3 separate regions of the Homo sapiens genome follow, and regions 2 and 3 are each linked to region 1. The links come from fine-mapping of genetic effects on gene expression. A gene starts in region 1. Each other region holds a variant in brackets. All regions are shown on one strand. Distances are from middle to middle. Region 1 holds the start of TKTL1 (transketolase like 1). Region 2 has its middle 57 kb from the start of VBP1. Region 3 overlaps TKTL1 (transketolase like 1).

The links. PIP is the estimated chance that this variant, and not a neighbour inherited with it, causes the effect. A credible set is the group of variants that fine-mapping cannot tell apart.
Region 2: its variant is the best candidate, but not a certain one, in a credible set for the expression of TKTL1 in spinal cord (GTEx, PIP 0.66).
Region 3: its variant is the best candidate, but not a certain one, in a credible set for the expression of TKTL1 in T cells (TOPMed, PIP 0.86).

The regions. Positions count from the first base shown.
Region 1 is chrX:154,293,681-154,298,902 of GRCh38, forward strand. TKTL1 (transketolase like 1) reads left to right here and starts at 2,115. Exons shown (of 13, transcript NM_012253.4): 1 at 2,115-2,313. The coding sequence starts at 2,180. It overlaps TEX28 (testis expressed 28), which reads right to left and starts at 1,444. Exons shown (of 5, transcript NM_001586.3): 1 at 1,350-1,444. RefSeq lists an enhancer at 1,306-1,807.
Region 2 is chrX:155,157,324-155,162,545 of GRCh38, forward strand. No RefSeq gene overlaps it. Among named protein-coding and RNA genes, the nearest start is that of VBP1, 57 kb to the right of the region's middle. The variant G/T (reference allele first, on the strand shown) is at 2,545.
Region 3 is chrX:154,316,699-154,321,920 of GRCh38, forward strand. It overlaps TKTL1 (transketolase like 1), which reads left to right. Exons shown (of 13, transcript NM_012253.4): 8 at 4,059-4,215. Among named protein-coding and RNA genes, the nearest start is that of TKTL1, 24 kb to the left of the region's middle. The variant C/G (reference allele first, on the strand shown) is at 2,873.

The sequences.
Region 1 (5,222 bases):
AAAAGCAAACAAGAAAAAAAAAGGCTTGAAACATATCTGATAGATAAAGGGCTAATCAACACAATATATAAAGAACTGCAAATCAGTAAACTAAGAGCAAATAACCCAATATAAAGACATTAAAGGGTAGCCACGGACATCTCAGACGACGAAAAACAAAAGACAGTAAACGTATAATAAAACATGTAATTGCAAGGTGATCCGGGAATAGTAAGCGAAAAGCAACAATTAAATACTATTTTCTCATCCACCAGAACGCCAAAAATTAAAAAGCCTAACAATGTCCAGGGCTGGCGAGAATGTGGCAGAAGGTGATGTCACATACCCTGCAAGTGGGAATCTAAACAGATTCAGGGTTTTGGTTTTTTTTTAATCGCAATTAGGTGGCCTGTTAAATTTTTTTTCTTGAGACAGAGTTTTGCTCTTGTTGCCCAGGCTGGAGTGCAATGGCTCGATCTTGGCTCACCGCAACCTCGACCTCCCAGGTACAAGCGATTCTCCTGTCTCAGCCTCCCAAGTAGCTGGGAGTACAGGTATGTGCCACTACACCCAGCTAATTTTTTTGTATTTAGTAGAAACGGGGTGTCTCCATGTTAGGCTGGTCAGGAACTCCTGACCTCAGGTGATCCACCCACCTTGGCCTCCCAAAGTGCTGGGATTACAGGAGCGTGTGCCACTGTGCCCAGCCACTTTTTTTTTTTTTTTAGACGGAGTCTTGCTCTGTCGCCCAGGCTGGAGTACAGTGGCGCCATCTCAGCTCACTGCAACCTCCGCTTCCCGGATTCAAGTGATTCTCCTGCCTCAGATTCCCATTAGCTGGGATTACAGGTGCCCACCACCGCCTGGCATGGTGGCTCACACCTGTAATCCCAACACTTTGGGAGGCCGAGGTGGGCAGATCACCTGAGGTCAGGAGTTCGAGACCAACCTGGCCAACATGGTGAAAACCCGTCTCTACTAAAAATACAAAAAATTAGCCAGGTGTGGTGGCGGATGCCTGTAATCCCAGCTATTCAGGAGGCTGAGGCAGGAGAATCGCTTGAAGCCAGGAGGCAGAGGTTGCAACGAGCTAAGTTCGAGCCACTGCACTCCAGCTTGGGCGACAGGGCGAGACTCCGTCTCAAAAAAAAAAAAAATGTAAACACACATTCCCTTTAACCCAGCAGAACATGGGAACCCAAGGGCATTCAGCCTGTGGCGCGACCAGGCGGCCTGACTTGAGCTCACGTAGAAATTCGGCATTTTTGAACCAAGAGACAGCACTTGGGATCCGGAATGTCTGGACTTGGGCACGGCGCTGTGGAGCTGGCGCCGTTGGGAGCCATGCGAGTTCTGGGTCGGTAGGTCACCTCAGAGGTGGGGAGAAGGTTCTCTGAGACCGACATGGGGGCTAGTGCTGGCACCACCGGACATGGGGCATTTCAGACACAGGGCGAGCACATTCCCTAGTTACCAGGGTTCATTCGAGTCAGTCACGTCACAGGCTGGCAATGGGCTAACTCCTCCTCAACAATCACACGGGGCTTGCCTCATAGAATGTTTTAAAAAAGGAAAGGAGGCTGGCGCAGGCGCCAACCGTCTCAGAACCCTGAGCACTGCCCCACCCCCACCCTGCCCGCCATAGCCTGGGCTGTTGTGGGGGAGGGGTGACCATTTATCACGAAACAAAAAATTGCGCCACAGCAGCTCCCTCCCTCCCCCACCTTTACGGTTGCAGCTGCACGTCCCACGTGCAGCACCACCCCCTGACACGTGCGGCACCACCCCCTGACACGTGCGGCACCACCCCCTGACACGTGCGGCACCACCCCCTGACACGTGCGGCACCACCCCCTGACACGTGCGGCACCACACAGCTAGTGCCGGAACTTTTTGTGCAGAGAAAGAAGACCCTGCACCCGCGCGGAGGGAGCCCTTTTGAGATTGCAGGAGAGAAGATGAGAATGGGACTATTTTCAATAACTGTGCACATGCAAGTCACAAACATTCCAGATCCCTTGACTTGCTTGCGGAGGGAGCGGCCGGCGGAGGGAGCGGCAGGTGGAGGGAGTGGCACGAGGCATGCGGAGGGAGCTGCACCGACATCACATAAACGCACTGGGCAGCTCGCAGGCGCCATTCGCTCTTCAGACGCCGGAGACGTAGGAGTGGGTCTTCAGACTCCAAAGGGGTTGGACTAATGGCGGATGCTGAGGCGAGGGCTGAGTTCCCGGAGGAGGCCAGACCTGACAGGGGCACCTTGCAGGTGTTGCAAGATATGGCCAGCCGCTTGCGAATCCATTCCATCAGGGCCACATGCTCCACGAGCTCCGGGTAAGTTCTCCTCATTGAAGTCTGGGTCATGCAGGGCCACGGGCCCGGTGGCTTCAGGCCTGGTGGCCATGAGGCCGTGTGGTGAAGGGAGAGCCTTCAGAGGCACAATGGGCTGTGTCGTAATGCCCTGTCTTGGGCTGTTGGGGCCCGGTCGAGCACCCTAGATGGCAGCGAGGCACTATTCCCGCCAACCCAAGGGTCGGTCGGTTGGTTGGTCAGCCGCGGGTTCTGGAGCCCGCCCCTCAATTTACCCACGGCCAAAGTTCTGGAGGTCGCCAAGATCTCCAGTTGGGAGACAAAGGATCCAGACTGGACTGAGGTGGCGGGAGAATGTCACTGGGATCAGATTGGGCTAGCTGTGGTTTTCATTTTAGCGGGGAGCAGGGCTTCCCTGGTAAGCAGTTGTACTGGATCCCCGAGGGTGAATGAGCGACTCTAACCCAGGATGTGAGGATAAAAAGCAATTAAAATTCCAGCCTGGGCAACATGGCGAAACCCCGTCTCTTACCAAAAAATAAAAATAAAAAATGAGTCGGGCATGGGGGCGCACACCTGCACTCCCAGCTATTCGGGAGGCTTGCTTGTGCTGTTGGGTTTGCTGGTATGCAGTTGATGGTTTTTGCATCAGTTTGAGGGATATTGGTCTCTAGTTGTATTGTAGTATTTGGTTTTGGTATCAAAGTGTAATGCTGGCTTCATAGGATGTTTCAAAGTGTTCCATCTTAAATTTTTTGGAGTGGCTGGGTGTAGTGGCTGCCACCTGTAATCCCAAGCACTTTGGGAGGCCGAGGCAGACGGATCGTGTGAGCCTAGAAACTAGTTCGAGATCAGCCTGGGCAAGATGGCGAACCTCTGTACAAAATGTTACAAAAATTAGCTGGGCGTGGTGGCACGTGCCTGTAGTCCCAGCTACGCGGGAGGCTGAGAGGCTCAGGTTACAGTGAACTGAGATTGCGCCACCGCACTCCAGCCTGGGCAAGAGCGAGACCGTGCCTCAAAGAAAAAAAAGTTAAACCCAGCTGAGGGCGGTGGCTCACGCCTGCAGTCTCAGTACGTGGGGCCTGAGGAGGGAGGATCGCTTGAGCCCAGGAGTTCGCATTCAGCTTGGCAAACAGTGAGACCCTGTCTCTAAAAAAATAAAGTAAAAGAAACCGGGAATTGAGTACGAATTGGAACAAAAATGAGCTGTTGAATTTGCTAGTATGCGGTTGATGGTTTTTGCATCAGTATAAGGGATATTGGTCTACAGGTTTTTTTTGTTTTTTTTTTCTTTTTTTGTTTTGAGACGAAGTATCACTGTCGCCCAGGCTGGAGTGCAGTGGCACGATTTTGGCTCACTACAAGCTCCGCCTCCTGGGTTCACGCCATTCTCCTGCCTCAGCCTCCGGAGTAGCTGGGACTGCAGGCGCCCGCCACCACGCCTGGCTAATTTTTTCTGTTTTTTAGTGGAGACGGGGTTTCCCCGTGTTAGCCAGGATGGTCTCGATCTCCTGACCTCGTGATCCGCCCGCCTCGGCCTCCCAAAGTGCTGGGATTACAGGCGTGAGCCACCGCGCCTGGCCTGGTCTATAGTTTTGTTGTAGTATTTGCTTTTGGTATCAAAAGTGTAATGCTGGCTTCATAGGATGAGTTTCAAAGTGTTCCACCTTAAATTTTTTGGAGAGGTCGGGCGTGGTGGCTCCAACCTGTAATCCCAGGACTTTGAGAGGCCAAAGCAGGCGGATCGTGTGAGCCTAGAAAGTTCGAGATCAGCCTGGGCAAGATGGCAATCCCCTGTGCAGAATGTTACAAAAATTAGCTGGGCGTGGTGGCACGTGCCTGTAGTCCCAGCTACGCGGGGGACAGAGTTTGCAGTGAACTAAGATTGTGCCACTACGGCCTGGGGAACAGAGGAAGCGAGACCTTGTAGAGAAAAAAAAATTTTTTTTTGAGGAGTTTGAAGAAGACTGTTGTTAATTTTTCTTTAAATGTTTGGCAGTAATTACGAATGAGGCTTTTATTTATTGGGCGTTTTTTTTATTACTGCTTTAGTCTCCTTACTAGTTAGTTGTAGGTCTATTCAGATTTTCTTGTCCTGATTAAGTTTTGTGAGGCTTTCTGTTTCTAGGAATTTATCCATTTCTTGTAGGTTAGTCCATTTGTTGGCATGCAGTTATTCATAGTACACTGTCACTCTTTTTATTTCTGTAGAAGCGGTATTAATGACTCCACTTTAACTTGATTGTACTTTTTTTTTTTAAGCAGGGTCTTGCTCTTTCACCCAGGCTGGAGTGCAGTGGTGCAATCATAGTTCACTGCAGCCTCGAACTCTCGTGGGCTCAAGCGACTCTCCTTCCTCTCAGCCTCTTGAGTAGCTGGAACTACAGGTGCACACCACCATGCCCTGCCCATCTATTAATAGCTAGTTTTGTTGACCTTTTATAAAGAACCAGCTTTGGCTAGGGGAGGTGGCTCACGCCTGTAACCTCAGCACTTTAGGAGGCCGAGGCAGCTGGATCACTTGAGCTCAAGAGTTCAGGACAAGCCTGGGCAACATGGGGAAACCCCGTCTCTGCCAAAAATACAACAATTAGCTAGACATGGCGAGCACCTGTAGTCTCAGCTACTCGGAAGGCTGAGGCGGAAGGATTGCTTGAGGCTGCAGTGAGCCATGTTTGTGCCCTACACTCCAGCCTGGGTGACAAACTGAGACCCTGTCTCAAAAAGAAAAAAAAATTGGTTTCATTAAATTTTTTCTATTTTCTTAGTCTCTGTTTTATTTGTGCTTTGATCTTTTTTATTTCCTTTCTCCTGCTAGCTTTGGGTTTAGTCCTTACGTTGTAAAGTTAGGTTGTTGATTTGAAGGGTTATTTATTTATTATTATTTTTTGAGACAGAGTCTTGCTGTGTCGCCCAGGCTAGAGATGGGG
Region 2 (5,222 bases), 860 kb after region 1:
AGTGCTGAGATTGCAGGCGTGAGACACTGCAACCAGCCTTAGCTATCTCTAAGTGTAACAATTATGGTTGATTTCCATTTTCTTTTTTGTATTTTTCTTTTTTTTAAATTATACTTTAAGTTTTAGGGTACATGTGCACAATGTGCAGGTTAGTTACACATGTATACATGTGCCATGCTGGTGTGCTGCACCCAGTAACTCATCATTTACATTAGGTATATCTCCTAATGCTATCGCTCCCCCCTCCCCCCACCGAACAACATGCCCCAGTGTGTGGTGTTCTGCTTCCTGTGTCCATGTGTTCTCATTGTTCAATTCCCACCTATGAGTGAGAACATGCGGTGTTTGGTTTTCTGTCCTTGCGATACTTTACTGAGAATGATGGTTTCCAGCTTCATCCATGTCCCTACAAAGGACATGAACTCATCCTTTTTTATGGCTGCATAGTATTCCATGGTGTACATGTACCACATTTTCTTAATCCAGTCTCTCATTGTTGGACATTTGGGTTGGTTCCAAGTCTTCGTTATTGTGAGTAGTGCCGCAATAAACATACGTGTGCATGTGTCTTTATAGCAGCATGATTTATAATCCTTTGGGTATATACCCAGTAATGGGATGGCTGGGTCAGATGGTATTTCTAGTTCTAGATCCCTGAGGAATCGCCACACTGACTTCCACAATGGTTGAACTAGTTTACAGTCCCGCCAACAGTGTAAAAGTGTTCCTATTTCTCCACATCCTCTCCAGCACCTGTTGTTTCCTGACTTTTTAATGATCACCATTCTAACTGGTGTGAGATGGTATCTCATTGTGGTTTTGATTTGCATTTCTCTGATGACCAGTAATGATGAGCATTTTCTCATGTGTCTTTTGGCTGCATAAATGTCTTCTTTTGAGAAGTGTCTGTTCATGTCCTTCGCCCACTTTTTGATGGGGTTGTTTGTTTTTGTCTTGTAAATTTGTTTGAGTTCATTCTAGATTCTGGATATTAGCCCTTTGTCAGATGAGTAGATTACAAAAATTTTCTCCCATTCTGTAGGTTGCCTGTTCACTCTGATGGTAGTTTCTTTTGCTGTACAGAAGCTCTTTGGTTTAATTAGATCCCATTTGTCAATTTAGGCTTCTGTTGCCATTGCTTTTGGTGTTTTAGACATGAAGTCCTTACCCATGCCTATGTCCTGAATGGTATTGCCTAGGTTTTCTTCTAGGGTTTTTATGGTTTTAGGTCTAACATTTAAATCTTTAATCCATCTTTAATTAATTTTAGTATAAGGTGTAAGGAAGGGATCCAGTTTCAGCTTTCTCCATGTGGCTAGCCAGTTTTCCCCACACCATTTATTAGATAGGGAACCCTTTCCCCATTTCTTGTTTTTGTCAGGTTTGTCAAAGATCAGATAGTTGCAGATGTGTGGCATTATTTCTGAGGGCTCTGTTCTGTTCCATTGGTCTATATCTCTGTTTTGGTACCAGTACCATGCTGTTTTGGTTACTGTAGCCTTGTAGTATAGTTTGAAGTCAGGTAGCATGATGCCTCCAGCTTTGTTCTTTTGGCTTAGGATTGACTTGGCAATGCGGGCTCTTTTTTGGTTCCATATGAACTTTGAAGTAGTTTTTTCCAATTCTGTGGAGAAAGTCATTGGTAGCTTGATGGGGATGGCATTGAATCTATAAATTATCTTGGGCAGTATGGCCGTTTTCACAATATTGATTCTTCCTATTCATGAGCATGGAATGTTCTTCCATTTGTTTGTATCCCCTTTTATTTCACTGAGCAGTGGTTTGTAGTTCTCCTTGAAGAGGTCCTTCACATCCCTTGCAAGTTGTATTCCTAGGTATTTTATTCTCTTTGAAGCAATTGTGAATGGGAGTTCACTCATGATTTGGCTCTCTGTTTGTCTGTTATTGGTGTATAAGAATGCTTGTGATTTTTGCACATTGATTTTGTATCCTGAGACTTTGCTGGAGTTGCTTATCAGCTTAAGGAGATTTTGGGCTGAGACGATGGGGTTTTCTAGATACACAATCATGTCATCTGCAAACAGGGACAATTTGACTTCCTCTTTTCCTAATTGAATACTCTTTGTTTCTTTCTTCTGCCTGATTGCCCTGGCCAGAACTTCCAACACTATGTTGAATAGGAGTGGTGAGAGAGGGCATCCCTGTCTTGTGCCAGTTTTCAAAGGGAATGCTTCCAGTTTTTGCCCATTCAGTATGATATTGGCTGTGGGTTTGTCATAAATAGCTCTTATTATTTTGAGATCCGTCCCATCAATACCTAATTTATTGAGAGATTTTAGCATGAAGGGCTGTTGAATTTTGTCAAAGGCCTTTTCTGCATCTATTGAGATAATCATGTGGTTTTTGTCATTGGTTCTGTTTATATGCTGGATAACATTTATTGATTTGCATATGTTGAACCAGCCTTGCATCCCAGGGATGAAGCCCACTTGATCATGGTGGGTAAGCTTTTTGATGTGCTGCTGGATTCGGTTTGCCAGTATTTTATTGAGGATTTTTGCATCAATGTTCATCAAGGATATT[G/T]GTCTAAAATTCTCTTTTTTGGTTGTATCTCTGCCAGGCTTTGGTATCAGGATGATGCTGGCCTCATAAAATGAGTTAGGGAGAATTCCATCTTTTTCTGTTGATTGGAATAGTTTCAGAAGGAATGGTACCAGCTCCTCCTTGTACCTCTGGTAGAATTCGGCTGTGAATCCATCTGGTCCTGGACTTTTTTTGGTTGGTAAGCTATTAATTATTGCCTCAATTTCAGAGCCTATTATTGGTCTATTCAGAGATTCAATTTATTCCTGGTTTAGTCTTGGGAGGGTCTATGTGTCGAGGAATTTATCCATTTCTTCCAGATTTTCTAGTTTATTTGTGTAGAGGTGTTTATAGTGTTCTCTGATGGTAGTTTGTATTTCTGTGGGATCGGTGGTGATATCCCCTTTATCATTTTTTATTGCGTCTATTTGATTCTTCTCTCTTTTCTTCTTTATTAGTCTTGCTAGTGGTCTATCAATTTTGTTGATCTTTTCAAAAAACCACCTCCTGGATTCATTGATTTTTTGAAGGGTTTTTTGTGTCTCTATTTCCTTCAGTTCTGCTCTGATCTTAGTTATTTCTTGCCTTCTGCTAGCTTTTGAATGTGTTTGCTCTTGCTTTTCTAGTTATTTTAATTGTGATGTTAGGGTGTCAATTTTAGATCTTTCCTGCTTTGTCTTGTGGGCATTTAGTGCTATAAATTTCCCTCTACACACTGCTTTGAATGTGTCCCAGAGATTCTGGTATGTTGTGTCTTTGTTCTCATTGGTTTTAAAGAACATCTTTATTTCTGCCTTCATTTCGTTATGTACCCAGTAGTCATTCAGGAGCAGATTGTTCAGTTTCCATGTAGTTGAGCGGTTTTGAGTGAGGTTCTTAATCCTGAGTTCTAGTTTGATTGCACTGTGGTCTGAGAGACAGTTTTTTACAATTTCTGTTGTTTTACATTTGCTGAGGAGAGCTTTACTTCCAACTATGTGGTCAATTTTGGAATAGGTGTGGTGTGGTGCTGAAAAAAATGTATATTCTGTTGATTTGGGGTGGAGAGTTCTGTAGATGTCTATTAGGTCCGCTTGGTGCAGAGCCGAGTTCAATTCCTGGATATCCTTGTTAACTTTCTGTCTCGTTGATCTGTCTAATGTTGACAGTGGGGTGTTAAAGTCTCCCATTATTATTGTGTGGGAGTCTAAGCCTCTTTGTAGGTCACTCAGGACTTGCTTTATGAATCTGGGTGCTCCTGTATTGGGTGCATATATATTTAGGATAGTTAGCTCTTCTTGTTGAATTGATCCCTTTACCATTATGTAATGGCCTTCTTTGTCTCTTTTGATCTTTGTTGGTTTAAAGTCTGTTTTATCAGAGACTAGGATTGCAACCCCTGCCTTTTTTTGTTTTCCATTTGCTTGGTAGATCTTCCTCCATCCTTTTATTTTGAGCCTATGTGTGTCTCTGCACATGAGATGGGTTTCCTGAATACAGCACACTGATGGGTCTTGACTCTTTATCCAATTTGCCAGTCTGTGTCTTTTAATTGGAGCATTTGGCCCATTTACATTTAAGGTTGATACTGTTATGTGTGAATTTGATCCTGTCATTATGATGTTAGCTGGTTATTTTGCTCATTAGTTGATGCAGTTTCTTCCTAGCCTCGATGGTCTTTCCAATTTGGCATGTTTTTGCAGTGGTTGGTACCTGTTATTCCTTTCCATGTTTAGTGCTTCCTTCAGGAGCTCTTTTAGGGCAGGTCTGGTGGTGACAAAATCTCTCAGCATTTGCTTGTCTGTAAAGGATTTTATTTCTCCTTCACTTATGAAGCTTAGTTTGGCTGGATATGAAATTCTGGGTTGAAAATTCTTTTCTTTAAGAATGTTGAATATTGGCCCCCACTCTCTTCTGGCTTGTAGAGTTACTGCCAAGAGATCCACTGTTAGTCTGACGGGCTTCCCTTTGTGGGTAACCCGACCTTTCTCTCTGGCTGCCCTTAGCATTTTTTCCTTCATTTCAACTTTGGTGAATCTGACAATTATGTGTCTTGGAGTTGCTCTTCTCGAGGAGTATCTTTGTGGCGTTCTCTGTATTTCCTGAATGTGAATGTTGGCCTGCCTTGTTAGATTGGGGAAGTTCTCCTGGATAATATCCTGCAGAGTGTTTTCCAACTTGGTTCCATTCTCCCTGTCACTTTCAGGTACACCAATCAGTTGTAGATTTGGTCTTTTCACATAGTCCCATATTTCTTGGAGGCTTTGTTTGTTTCTTTTTATTCTTTTTTCTCTAAACTCTTCTCGCTTCATTTCATTCATTTGATCTTCAATCACTGATACCGTTTCTTCCAGTTGATTGAATTGGCTACTGAGGCTTGTGCATTCGTCATGTAGTTCTGGTGCCTTGGTTTTCAGCTCCATCAGGTCATTTAAGGACTTCTCTGCTTTGGTTATTCTAGTTGTCCATTCGTCTAATGTTTTTTCAAGGTTTTTAACTTCTTTGCCATTGGTTCGAACTTCCTCCTTTAGCTTGGAGTAGTTTGATTGTCTGAAGCATTCTTCTCTCAACTTGTCAAAGTCATTCTCCGTCCAGCTTTGTTCCGTTGCTGGTGAGGAGCTGCATTCCTTTTGAGGAGGAGAGGCGCTCTGATTTTTAGATTTTTCAGTTTTTCTGCTCTGTTTTTTCCCCATGTTTGT
Region 3 (5,222 bases), 23 kb after region 1:
CCACAGCTCCCCATGCTCTGCTGGGCCATTTGGGTTTTTTGTTGTTTTGTGGTTTTTGGTTTTTTTTTGGGGGTTTTTTTTTTTTGAGATGGAGTCTCTCTCTCTCTCTCACCGAGGCTGGAGTGCAGTGGCACGATCACAGCTCACTGCAACCTCTGCCTCCCAGGTTCAAGCGATTCCCTTGCCTCAGCCTCGCAGGTAGCTGGGATTACAGACATGCGCCACCATGCCTGGCTAATTTTTGTGTTTTTAGTGGAGACAGGGTTTCACCATGTTGGTCAGGCTGGTCTCCAACTCCTGACCTCAGGTGATCTGCCTGCCTCAGCCTCCCAAAGTGCTGGGATTACAGGTGTGAGCCCCCGAGCCTGGCTCATTAAGCTGTTTTCATTTTGAATAGAAAACAATGCGATCCGTAATTTTCTGGATTAATGCTCCTGTCAAAAATTTTGCTCCCCACCTCACTGATTGCCTCAGCACGCAGCCATGTAGTCTACTCCGTCCCTGCTGATATGTTCTCACAGTTGGAAAAAAGTTGTAAAGAAAAGGCGAGCAGGTGGTATTTAGTGCCATGTTGAAAGAGGTGGCTACAATGTAGAGCTTGACCAGGGGCAGTCAGGGACAACCTCTCAGAAAAGGTGATACTTAAGCTGAGTCTCAGGTGACGAGGGGTCAGCCGTGTGCAGATGTGGGAGACAGCATTTCAAGCAAGGGGCATGGCCAACTGTAGGCAGGCCCAGGCTTGGAATGTTTGGAGAGCAGAGGAAGGGCCAAGTGGTAGGAGCATGGTGAACGCAGAAAACTCTCCAGGGCCCAGGTCATACGGGGTCTTATAGGCGCCCTTTTCAGTATCTCTGGTTCTCTTGCAGTTTGCTGGGAAGCCACTGGAGGGCTTTAAGCAGGAAAGCAACAGCCTGCGTTTTCCAAAACTCTGAAGACTGGAGAATGGCTTCACGTAGGAAAGGGAGGAGAAGGAGAGGGTGACTTGGACCAGGGCAGTAGCTGTGGAGTCGGAGGGAAGCAGACTTGTCACATATTGCCTTGGCAGGAGAGCCAGCAGGATGCCAACGGCAGGTGTCAGGACAGGACCCAAGGCTGGTGCTTGAGTGTGGGTGGCAGCACCTGGGGGAAGGTGGTGTCACCTCTTGAGATTGACAAGACTGGGGGAGAAGTGGACTGGAGGGCACCATCAGGAGCTCTGTGTGGGCCTGGGGGGTTGGGGCACCTGTTAGATGTACAGAGGGGAGACAGTGGTATCAGATGGCTGGGCAGTAGATCAGTCAGTCATTTTCACATGTGGCCGCTCCACACCACTAAATGCAGTTTTCTAAACTACATATTCGTTGGCCTAGTTTTAAGCTAACATCTTTTTTTTATTTTTATTTTTTGTAGAGATGGAGTCTTGCTCTGTCACCCAGGCTGGAATGCAGTGGCACAATCATGGCTCCCTGCAGCCTCAAACTCCTGGGCTCAAGGGGTCCTCTGGCCTCGGCCTCTTGAGGAGCTGGGAGCCGCCATGCTTGGCCACATCTACATTTTTAATCATAAATTTAAGTCGTTGCAAAGGATGTAGTTGTTCATATATTGACATTTTTGATACTTTAATACTCAAATCATGCCATTAATGATGACACTGGCTGGGCATAGTGGCTCACACCTGTAATCCCGGCACTTTGGGAGGCTGAAGCTGGAGGATTGCTGGAGTTCAAGAGTTCGAGACCAGGCCGGGTGCGGTGGCTCACGCCTGTAATCCCAGCACTTTGGGAGGCCGAGGCGGACGGATCACGAGGTCAGGAGATGGAGACCATCCTGGCTAACATGGTGAAACCCCTTCTCTACTAAAAATACAAAAAAAAAAAAAAATTAGCCGGGCGTGGTGGTGGGTGCCTGTAGTCCCAGCTACTCGGGAGGCTGAGGCAGGAGAATGGCGTGAACCCGGGAGGCAGAGCTTGCAGTGAGCTGAGATTGCGCCACTGCAGTCCAGCCTGGGCGACAGAGCGAGCCTCCGTCTCAAAAAAAAAAAAAAAAAAAAAAGTTCAAGACCAGCCTGAACAACATAGTGAGACCTGGTCTGTAATTAAAAAAAAAAAATTCATGCCAAGCCACTTTTCTTTGTCAGAAATTAAAACCCTTTTTCTACTTGATTTCCAATTTCCATTCCATTCATTTCCCCAATATATCTTTATGCATGAAAGCCTTTTATTGATTGTCCTATCATTTTTCTCTGCAACAAAAATATGCATATAAATTGATAGGTTTTTAAAAAATTATAATATAGGCTTCTGAGCATTAGGTTTTTTTTTCTGGACTGAGATAGAATTTTGATTATTATTAGCTGGTATGTTAGTGGATGAGTATACTTGTAGTTTGAATGTGATAGCATTGAGAACAGATTCTATTCCTGTTTTTCATCTTCATGATGTGCTATGAAACCTTACTTACATGAATAAGTAGATGGGAAGGGAAGTTTTGTTAGAGGAATGTCACTCAGTTCTTTGAATTCCTTCCCAGTTGTAAGTCAAAAAATCACATAGTGATCTTTCATGTAAAGTTGTTTATAAAAGTTATTTACAGAGTTGACAGTTTCATTAATTAAGTTCTTCACTTTCTCTCCACCAGCATAGTTATTTCAAATTGTCCTCTTTACTTGGGTCTGGAGGTTCTGCACTCCAGGATGATCCCCCTGTAAGAGTCAGGTGGCTGAGAGCATGCCCTTTGGGGATCAGGTTGCTAGAAGGTGATTGTTAAAAGAGACAGTGGGAGACCCAGGGGCAGTGGCTCACGCCCGTAATCCCAGAACTTTGGGAGGCCGGCCGAGGTGGGTGGATCACCTGTCAGTTCGAGACCAGCCTGACCAATATGGTGAAACCTCGTC[C/G]CTACTAAAAATACAAAAATTAGCCAGACGTGGTGGCGGGTGCCTGTAATCCCAGCTACTCGGGAGGCAGAGACAGGAGAATCGCTTGAACCCAGGAGGTGGAGGTTGCAGTGAGCCAAGATTGCACCAGTGCACCCCAGCCTGGGCAACAGAGCAAGACCCTGTCTAAAAAAAAAAAAAAAGACCATGAGGGGAGCACAGACCCTCCTTTTGGCAGATGAATGTAGACAGAGTTGATCTGGAGTTTGGGATCTTGAGTGTAACACCCACAGCCACATCCCCTTTGGAAAGCCTGTGTGTATCCGCAGAGAGGTTTGTATTCTAGTTTGAAGCCTTCTGGGGTATTTGAGCCCGGACTTCTGGGGAAGGGGGGTAAGGAATGGCAATGTAAAGTGGGGATCATTACCAGAATGCACATCAGGGGAGCATTGGGCCAGATGCGACTTCCCGAGGGTGCACAGGGCCCTGAGGACTTGCCCCAGCAGCGCCCATGAGGCGACAGCAGTGGGCCACTGCCACACTGCAGAAACCGAGAGGAGGAAATGCCTTGAGATCAGGGGCCAAGTCAAGTCACAGGCCACCCAAGGTCAGGCAGCCTCTTGGTTTTGTGGCTTCGAGGTCCCTTGTGGGGATGGTGGCCTAGATGAAGTAGGCTGGGAAGAGCGTGGAAAATGAGAAAGCAGGGGCAATGACTATAGGCAAGTTTTGAGAAGTTTGCTGCGAAGGAGAACACAGATGTAAAAGCAGGACAAGGCGGAGATGGGGCTGTGAAGATAAAAGGTGCTGGCGCACACCTGAATGGAAATAGAATGATCCAAGAGAAAGGGAAGTAGCACAAGAGGGGAGGAGGAGCTGCATGGCTGGAGACCCCTGTGAGAAAGCAGGAACAGGACAGATTCAGGATGTCCTGTCGGGGCATGGACCCTGGAAAGCTGCGGACACCAGGAGGGCAGGCAAGAGAGTCTCATCTCTTGCTCCCTAGGAGCTATGAGTTGAGGGCGCCGTCTGAGCAGGAGGGACGGACGGGTGCCCAGGGTTTGAGGAAAGAGGGGTGTGGGAAGGACGCATGCTAGAACTTCAGAGCAGTTCAGCAGGTGCAGAATGGGAGTTATCATGGGGACTGTGGGAGAAGGGGCGGTGGGGGCAATGCCCAGGGATGTTCTGATTCATGTTCTCTGTGCTGCAGGTGAGCGTGGCTCTGGGCTGTGCCTCCCGTGGACGGACCATTGCTTTTGCTAGCACCTTTGCTGCCTTTCTGACTCGAGCATTTGATCACATCCGGATAGGAGGCCTCGCTGAGAGCAACATCAACATTATTGGTTCCCACTGTGGGGTATCTGTTGGTAAGGGTTCTAAATGCCATCATCTTGGTAGCCTTCCTCCTTCACAGAGAAAGATTAGCATGTGATTGGTTAAACCACGAATTTCCTTATGGTTCCATGAAGTTTGATTATTCAAGCCTTTTTCTTGAAAAAGCCATATTGTACTTTAAAAGTGTCAGACTCTCAGGGCAACTTTTGAAGTGCATCTCTCGGTGGTACTGTTGTTTCAGACAGTGAGAAACAGTTGCTTATCCCGAGTGCCCCTTGTGTGTTGAGCTGCGTGCAGGTTATGGACAGGACTGGCAGAGTCATGGAGCCTTTTCTGCCCTCGCTGTGGTTGCAGTCTAACTGAGGGTGAACAGCATCACAGAGGACGAGGAGCATTCTGGCTGGCTGCACAGCCTGCTCAGGTGGGAGGGGGGCTGGGACCACCATCACCACCTTCCTGCCTGGGGCAGCGAGAACCCTGGAGCGTGACACGAGGCAGGAACTCTTACAAACACACCCTTCTCAGAGTAGTAGTCACCTGGCAGGTGGGCTAGAAGGAAACCACAGGAAACGGGAAGCCAGAGAGGGGATTGAAACAAGGTGTGCAAGGTGGTGGGGGAGAAAACCAGGGGGGTGGGGGGGGACCTGAGAGTGAAGAAAGAGGTGAGTGTGCCTAACAGATGGAGCACTCTGCAATGGCGTGAAGAGCAAAACACACGAGTCTCCGGGATTCCTCACTTGGGAAACGTCAGAGAGTCATTTTCGTGAATGACAGAAATGACATGGGAAAGATGAGCCAGCTGGCGTGCCTGTGGCAGGCAGATGGGCTTACTAGATGTGGCTGCACACACTTGCTTCTAGAATGCCAGAGATGCACGCTGGAAAGCCATCTCAGGGACTCCCTGGGAGAATGAGGCTGGACGAGATGGCTCTAGATGGAGCTAGAGTCACGGCTGTCTGGGTGAAGCTGGAGGCACAGGTGGTGGCCAGAGAGAGGAGGCGCGGCAGTGTTGCAGGGGCAGAGGGGCCTAGGAAAGGGT